2 linked regions of the Homo sapiens genome follow. The protein of the gene in region 1 interacts with the protein of each later gene in a pairwise test. Each region holds a gene or a part of one and is shown on either strand. Other genes may lie near its edges.

The links.
Region 2: the proteins of MEST (region 1) and SNX7 interact in a two-hybrid assay, tested with the Homo sapiens proteins (one large-scale study listed by IntAct).

What each region holds. Positions count from the first base shown.
Region 1 is NC_000007.14:130,498,585-130,502,084, forward strand, and holds part of MEST (mesoderm-specific transcript homolog protein), read left to right. Parts: intron 1-1,290; coding exon 1,291-1,331; intron 1,332-1,877; coding exon 1,878-1,948; intron 1,949-2,204; coding exon 2,205-2,306; intron 2,307-3,500.
Region 2 is NC_000001.11:98,755,721-98,758,360, forward strand, and holds part of SNX7 (sorting nexin-7), read left to right. Parts: intron 1-2,640. UniProt on the Homo sapiens protein: Involved in the regulation of endocytosis and in several stages of intracellular trafficking. Together with SNX4, involved in autophagosome assembly by regulating trafficking and recycling of phospholipid scramblase ATG9A.

The DNA.
Region 1 (3,500 bases):
AAACTATGGGATCTCTACCTCTTCTGTGCCATCAACTCCTTTGGTGGTCTGACAAGATTTATGGACCCTTTCTCAGAATGTTTTAAAATAAAGAAACAAACAGCATTACAAAGGATAGTGACTTTACTTACATAGTCAATAAAAAGCTGCATTATAGTCACATGTGCTTTTTCAATGCATTAGATAGCAAGTTCTAGTGGAGGACCTAGTAACAGCTATATCAGAAGGAGTGAGGAGTGTAAAGACTGTTTGCCATATCTGAAACAACTGCAATAGGTTATGAGAGTGTAGGATTGAAGATACAGAAAAAAGCCACAAGTGTTTCTAATACTACTATGATGTTAGTGTAGAAAATCCTTACTTAATGTCATCAATGGGTTCTTGGAAACTGTGACTTTAAATGAAACGTTATAATGGAACCAATTTTTTTTCTCATCAATGTTTTAAAGAAAGGATGTTATTCAAGGACCTGCTGTACCTCATTCTGCTTAAAGCCGAAGTTTCCAAGAACCTATCCTGATGTTAAGTGAGGACTTAACTGTATGAGATTCCCCAACTCCTAACTGATGGCAGTGCCAAGTTTCAGTTAGAAAATACCGAACCCCTGATTAGACTTTCTGGGTAGCCAGCTTGCAAGTTCATGAATATCCAAATGTCTCCTGAACGCCTTAAGAGCAGACTGGGAGAGAAATCCGTCTCTCCCTTTATCACTTATGCTCATGGCTTTCTTCCACTGACTCTGAAGAGAAAGGGAAAAGGAAAAACTCTAGGGTTTTTAAAGGACCTATACTTATTTAAAAACTTCTTGTTTTATTCTTACAGCCCAAATCATTAACCCTCGTGTTCTGAGTGATAGGGGGAAATGCTAAGGGGAGTCAGAGCCTGGTTATCAGCATTTTGGATGACCATATATTTTCTCCCCGTTTCACTATCTTTAAGATGGGAAAAGTAATTCCAGTGGGATTTATTGTGACCAGTTAAACACAGAATTCCTGGAGAAGTAATTAGATGACAGTTTTAAATTGTTATTTGTAATTCTGTTTTGGTAGTAAAGGCTGCAGAGGTGATGGTGAATAGGGTGGGTAGTTTCTGATAATGGGCTTGCCTTTGACCTAAATGTAGGTAGGCTGGGTGAGGTGGCTTGCACCTGTAATCCCAGCACTTTGGGAGGCTGAGGTGAGAGGATTGCTTGAGCTCGAGACCAGCTGGGCAACCCAGTGAGATCCCGTCTCTATAAAAAAAAAAAAATTAAAGCTGTAGGTAAATGACTAAGATAAGTCTCTTCTACAGGTATCTTTCCTGAGACTCACCGTCCACTCCTTCTCCAAAAGGTTGGTACTTCACTGATAGACCTTTAGTTTTAGGATTTGTACTGACGTAAATAATGCTGGGACCTTTTAAGGGCCATAGCTCCTGTAACTGGCAGTAGTTAAATCCTCTTCCTTGTGAATTTCTATTAATGAAGTTACTTTTTCCCTTCTTAGGCAACTAAAGCAGAGGCAGTGGCCCCTACGTAAACCCAAAACCAATCCTAAGAATAAGAGATCAACAAATATTTGGAGAAATTACAGCTATGGAAAGATCTGTGTCACAAGCTTGATGTTTGAACAAATTAGGATCCTACTCTAAACTTGAATATATCAGAGTTAAAGTTTTAGGGATTTAGTGAATTGTAGAAAAGTAATCTTAGATGGAATTAGAAATAGATTTGTCTTCCTTGAGAGAAGAATGCGGGTAGGCAAAACAAAATGCCAAGTACCAAACCATTCAGTAGCAGGAGATTTGGCTAAAGATTTAGTTCCTAGTATAAAACCTTTTGCCCCGGTGAGGATCTTCCTCTGGGTTCTTGAGCTTTACCTCCACTTATTCCCCTCCAGCTACTCAAAGATGGAGGTGTGCTGTCACCCATCCTCACACGACTGATGAACTTCTTTGTATTCTCTCGAGGGTAAGTGTCACTGTCAAAGATTGTGGCCTAGAGCAATGTCGTGAAAAGTTGCTGCCATTACAATTCTGGGCCAAATCCTAAGGCTTGATATTTTAAAGCAAAGGTGTTGGCCGCTTGCCAGGGAAGTAGAAGGAATTCATAAATCACTTATGGGTCAGACTGCATGGCCCAGACTGCATGGCCTCTGAGGTTCCAGCCATATTGAACATTCTGAGTTCTCCTCACACTTATCTTCCTGCGTTTTGGACTCTTTCAGTCTCACCCCAGTCTTTGGGCCGTATACTCGGCCCTCTGAGAGTGAGCTGTGGGACATGTGGGCAGGGATCCGCAACAATGACGGGAACTTAGTCATTGACAGGTAAGAAGTTACCCTTTGCTTTGGTTTCCAGAGACGTGTTTTTGTGGAGAGTGGGGATTGCTTGTTCTGTTCCTTGCTGGCTTATTCCCTATCACAGGAAGGCTGATGATGACCTATGGGGCAAACCAAAAAGTCATGGTCTATATGAAGAAAGAAATAGAAAATAAGAGTGAAACTGGACTCTTTGTTAGTATTAAATGCTTCAAAGTATTGAATCATGGTTGTGAAAGTAGCCTAGTGCCTCCCTCAAGGTACAAGGCTCTTCCTTTTGCCTATCTTTCTGCAGCAACGGGGAGTGAGAGGGCAGACTTCTCTTTCTCTGTCTTGTACAAAGAATTCCCATGCCTTGGTTCAAATGAGAATGTAGACACTTTCACAAGGGACCCAGAGGTGGTGATAGCTGTAACTACTTGGGATAAGACTCTGACTTCTAGCCACCTGGCTCAGTGTAGCTTCCAGTGTTTTTACTGATGGCTTTGCTGGGGATTGTATGTTAGAGGGAGCCAATCCTCCCACCCTCTCCTAAGCCCCAACAGGATCCCTGAATATTTCATTTTAGTATTAAAAAACTGAAGAACAATTAAGACTGTCTTTTAAAATTATATTTTCCTTTCCAAAAAGTAAATACTATTTGTAAGATGAGATATTTGAGGTTCACAAAAATAACTGTCCTGGAGTTGCCAGGCAGAATGAGTAGAATACATGAGTTTGAGTTCTAAAATGTGGCAGTGGTGTCTTACGCTGGAGAAAGAGGAATCCTCTCCATTTTATCTGTGGTCAGATGAAGCTTTGTGCTCATCAACATCTACACTTAGAATTTTGAAGTAGATGTCGGCTGGGCACAGTGGCTCACGCCTGTAATTTGAGCACTTTGGGAGGCCAAGGTGGGCGAATCATATGAGGTCAGGAGTTTAGAGACCAGCCTGGCCAACATGATGAAACCCCGTGTCTACTAAAAATACAAAAATTAGCCAGTAATTCCAGCTACTCAGGAGGCTGAGGCACAAGAATTGCTTGAGCCCAGGAAGCGGAGGTTGCAGTGAACTGAGATCATGCCACTGCACTTCAGCCTGGGCACAGAGTGAGACTCCGTCTCAAAAAAAAAAAAAGAAAAAAAAAAAGAAGTAGATGTCAACACAGAAGATCATGTGTTACAATCCTCTTATTTTAAAAATGAGGAGGCTAGCCAGGTCC
Region 2 (2,640 bases), on another chromosome or scaffold:
CCCAAACTGCTGGGATTACAGGCATGAGCCACCATGCCTGCCCATATATATATTTTTTAATCCTTTTAATTTTAACTATATTTGTCCTTATATTTAAAATATTTATAAGAAATTTAAACAAAGTATAGGTAGGTCTTGTTTTTTTATTCAGTTGGCAATCTGCATCTTTTAATGGTGTGTTTAGCATGTAGACATTTGAGTAGGATTATTGATATATTTGAGTCTTTTATCTTGCTGTGTTTTATTTGTTCTGTCTGTACATTGTTCCTATTTTCTTCTTTTGCCTTCTTTTGAATTGATAGACAATTTTACATGATTTCATTTTACATCTCTTTGTGGTGTATTAGATGTAACTCTTTTGTATTAGGTATAACTTTTATTATTTTAGTGGTTATTTTTAGGTTACTGTATGTGTCTTAAATTTATCATAGTCTACCTTCAGGTAGTATTATACTTCATATATAAGAACCTACAAATGTGTTTTTTCATTCCCTTTCATCTGGCTTTTATGCTGTTTTTGTCATACATTTTGCCTATACATGTATTATAAGCCCTGCAAGATTTTGCTATTTTTAATTCATTAGATTTTAAATACATTTAAATAATAGGAAAAGTATGTATCATATGTACTCATGTCGTTACTATGTCATTTGTTTATAGATCCATATTTCTATCTGGTCTCTTTTTTTTCTGCCAGATGAGTTTTTTTTTTTTTTTTTTTTTTTTAATATTGGTTGTAGTGTGTTCTGCTGGTGATAAATTTTGCAGATAATGAATTAAGTGATTTTCCAGTCTGCCTGATGGGATTCTGTACTATTGTAGGCCCTATGAGAATGCTGGATACTGTTTAATCCTTCCCGATGGCTTTTTCCCCTGTCTCTGGTAGTCTTCTCACATGCATGTGCCAGTCAGTACTCTGCTTGGTGTGGGGCACCCTCCGCATATCTCCAGAGCTTTCCATGCACCACTCTCTTCTCTGATACTCTGGTCTATGAACTCTAGCTGCATTTTCTCGAACTCTTAGCTCTATCCTTTTAACTCAGTGAGTCAGCCAGGTAATGTCTCCCTTCACCATGGCCTCGAAATTCTGTTAAGGCAATAAGCTGGCATATTAGAGGGATACTAATATAGTTTAGATATTCGTCCCCACCCAAATCTCATGTTGAAATGTCATCCGCAGTGTTGGAGTTGGGGCTGGTGGAAGGTATTTGGATCATAGTGGTGGATCCCTTATGTATGTCTTGGACCATCCCTTTGGTGATAAGTGAGTGCTTGCTCTGAGTTCACAGGAGATCTGGTTGTTTAGAAGTGTGTAGCACCACCTCCACCACTCCTGCATACGCCATGCGGCATGCCTGCTACCACCTCACCTTCTGCCATGATTGTAAACTTCATGAGGCCTCCCCAGAATCTGAGAAGATGCTGGCAGCAGCTTCCTATACAGCCTGCAGAACTGTGAGGCAATTAAACCTCTTTTCTTTATAAATTACCCAGTCTCAGGTATTTCTTTATAGCAATGCAAGAACAGCCCAATACAGATGCCATAACAAAATTCCAAAGACTAGGTGGCTTAAACAACAGAAATTTGTTTCCTCACAATTCTAGAGGCTAGAAGTCTAAGATCAAGGTGTCAGCAGGCTGCTTTCTTCTAAGGCCCCTCTCCTTGGCTTGCAGATGCCCACCTTCCTGCTGTGTCCTCAGATGATTTTTCCTCCTTGCTCACATTTCTGGTTTCCTCTCTGTGGCCAGATTTCCTCTTCTTATAAGGACACCAGTCATATTGGATTAGGGCTCACCCACATGACCTTATTTTACCTTAATTACCTCTTTAAAGGCCTTATCTGCAAATATAGTCACTTTCTGAGGTACTAGAATTAGAGCTTCAGTCCATAACACTGGGGTAATCATGGAGCTTACTCTTCCCCACCCCACCCCAGGGACCACTATCCTTTGTTGCCTGATTTCCAGGGTGTTGAAAACCATTGCTTTATATATATAGTATCTACCTGATTGATTGATTGATTGATTGATTGATTGAGGCAAAAGAGCCTTTCCAGTCCCTGTTATACCCTCTGGGTCAGCAACAGAAGTCCTGAGCCTGAGTTCTTGATCACTACACTATACTTCCTCACATTGACCTTTCACAAACATGCAGAGATTTATGGGATCTACCTTTTGCTCATCTTTTAGTCTGCATTCAGTGATTACTTCCACTAGGAAACATTAGGACACTCCAATGTGACTTAGATCCTATTACTGTTACTCCCATCATGTCCTGTAACATCACAGACCCTATACTTGATTATATTTGCTTACTTAGGTTTCATGCTAAATCATAATTTCTATTAGTTTGTGGGCTGTGTGCTAGCATCATCACAGTGCCTGGCATATAGTAAGAACTCCAAAATATTTGTTGAGTGAAGAGATTTTTGTATGTCTACCCTCCATGCCCCCCAAATCATGCATAGTTTGGACAATTATAAATTACAGTCCAAAATTTGAAAAATATACTAAATGTGAAGTATTCATCTTTTATGCCTTTTCATGAGTATAGACATTTGGATACACTTAAAGATATCTAAATTCTTCTCCTGTACCGTCTAAGAGGAGGCCATTCTTACTAGTTGGCTCCTGTAGTAA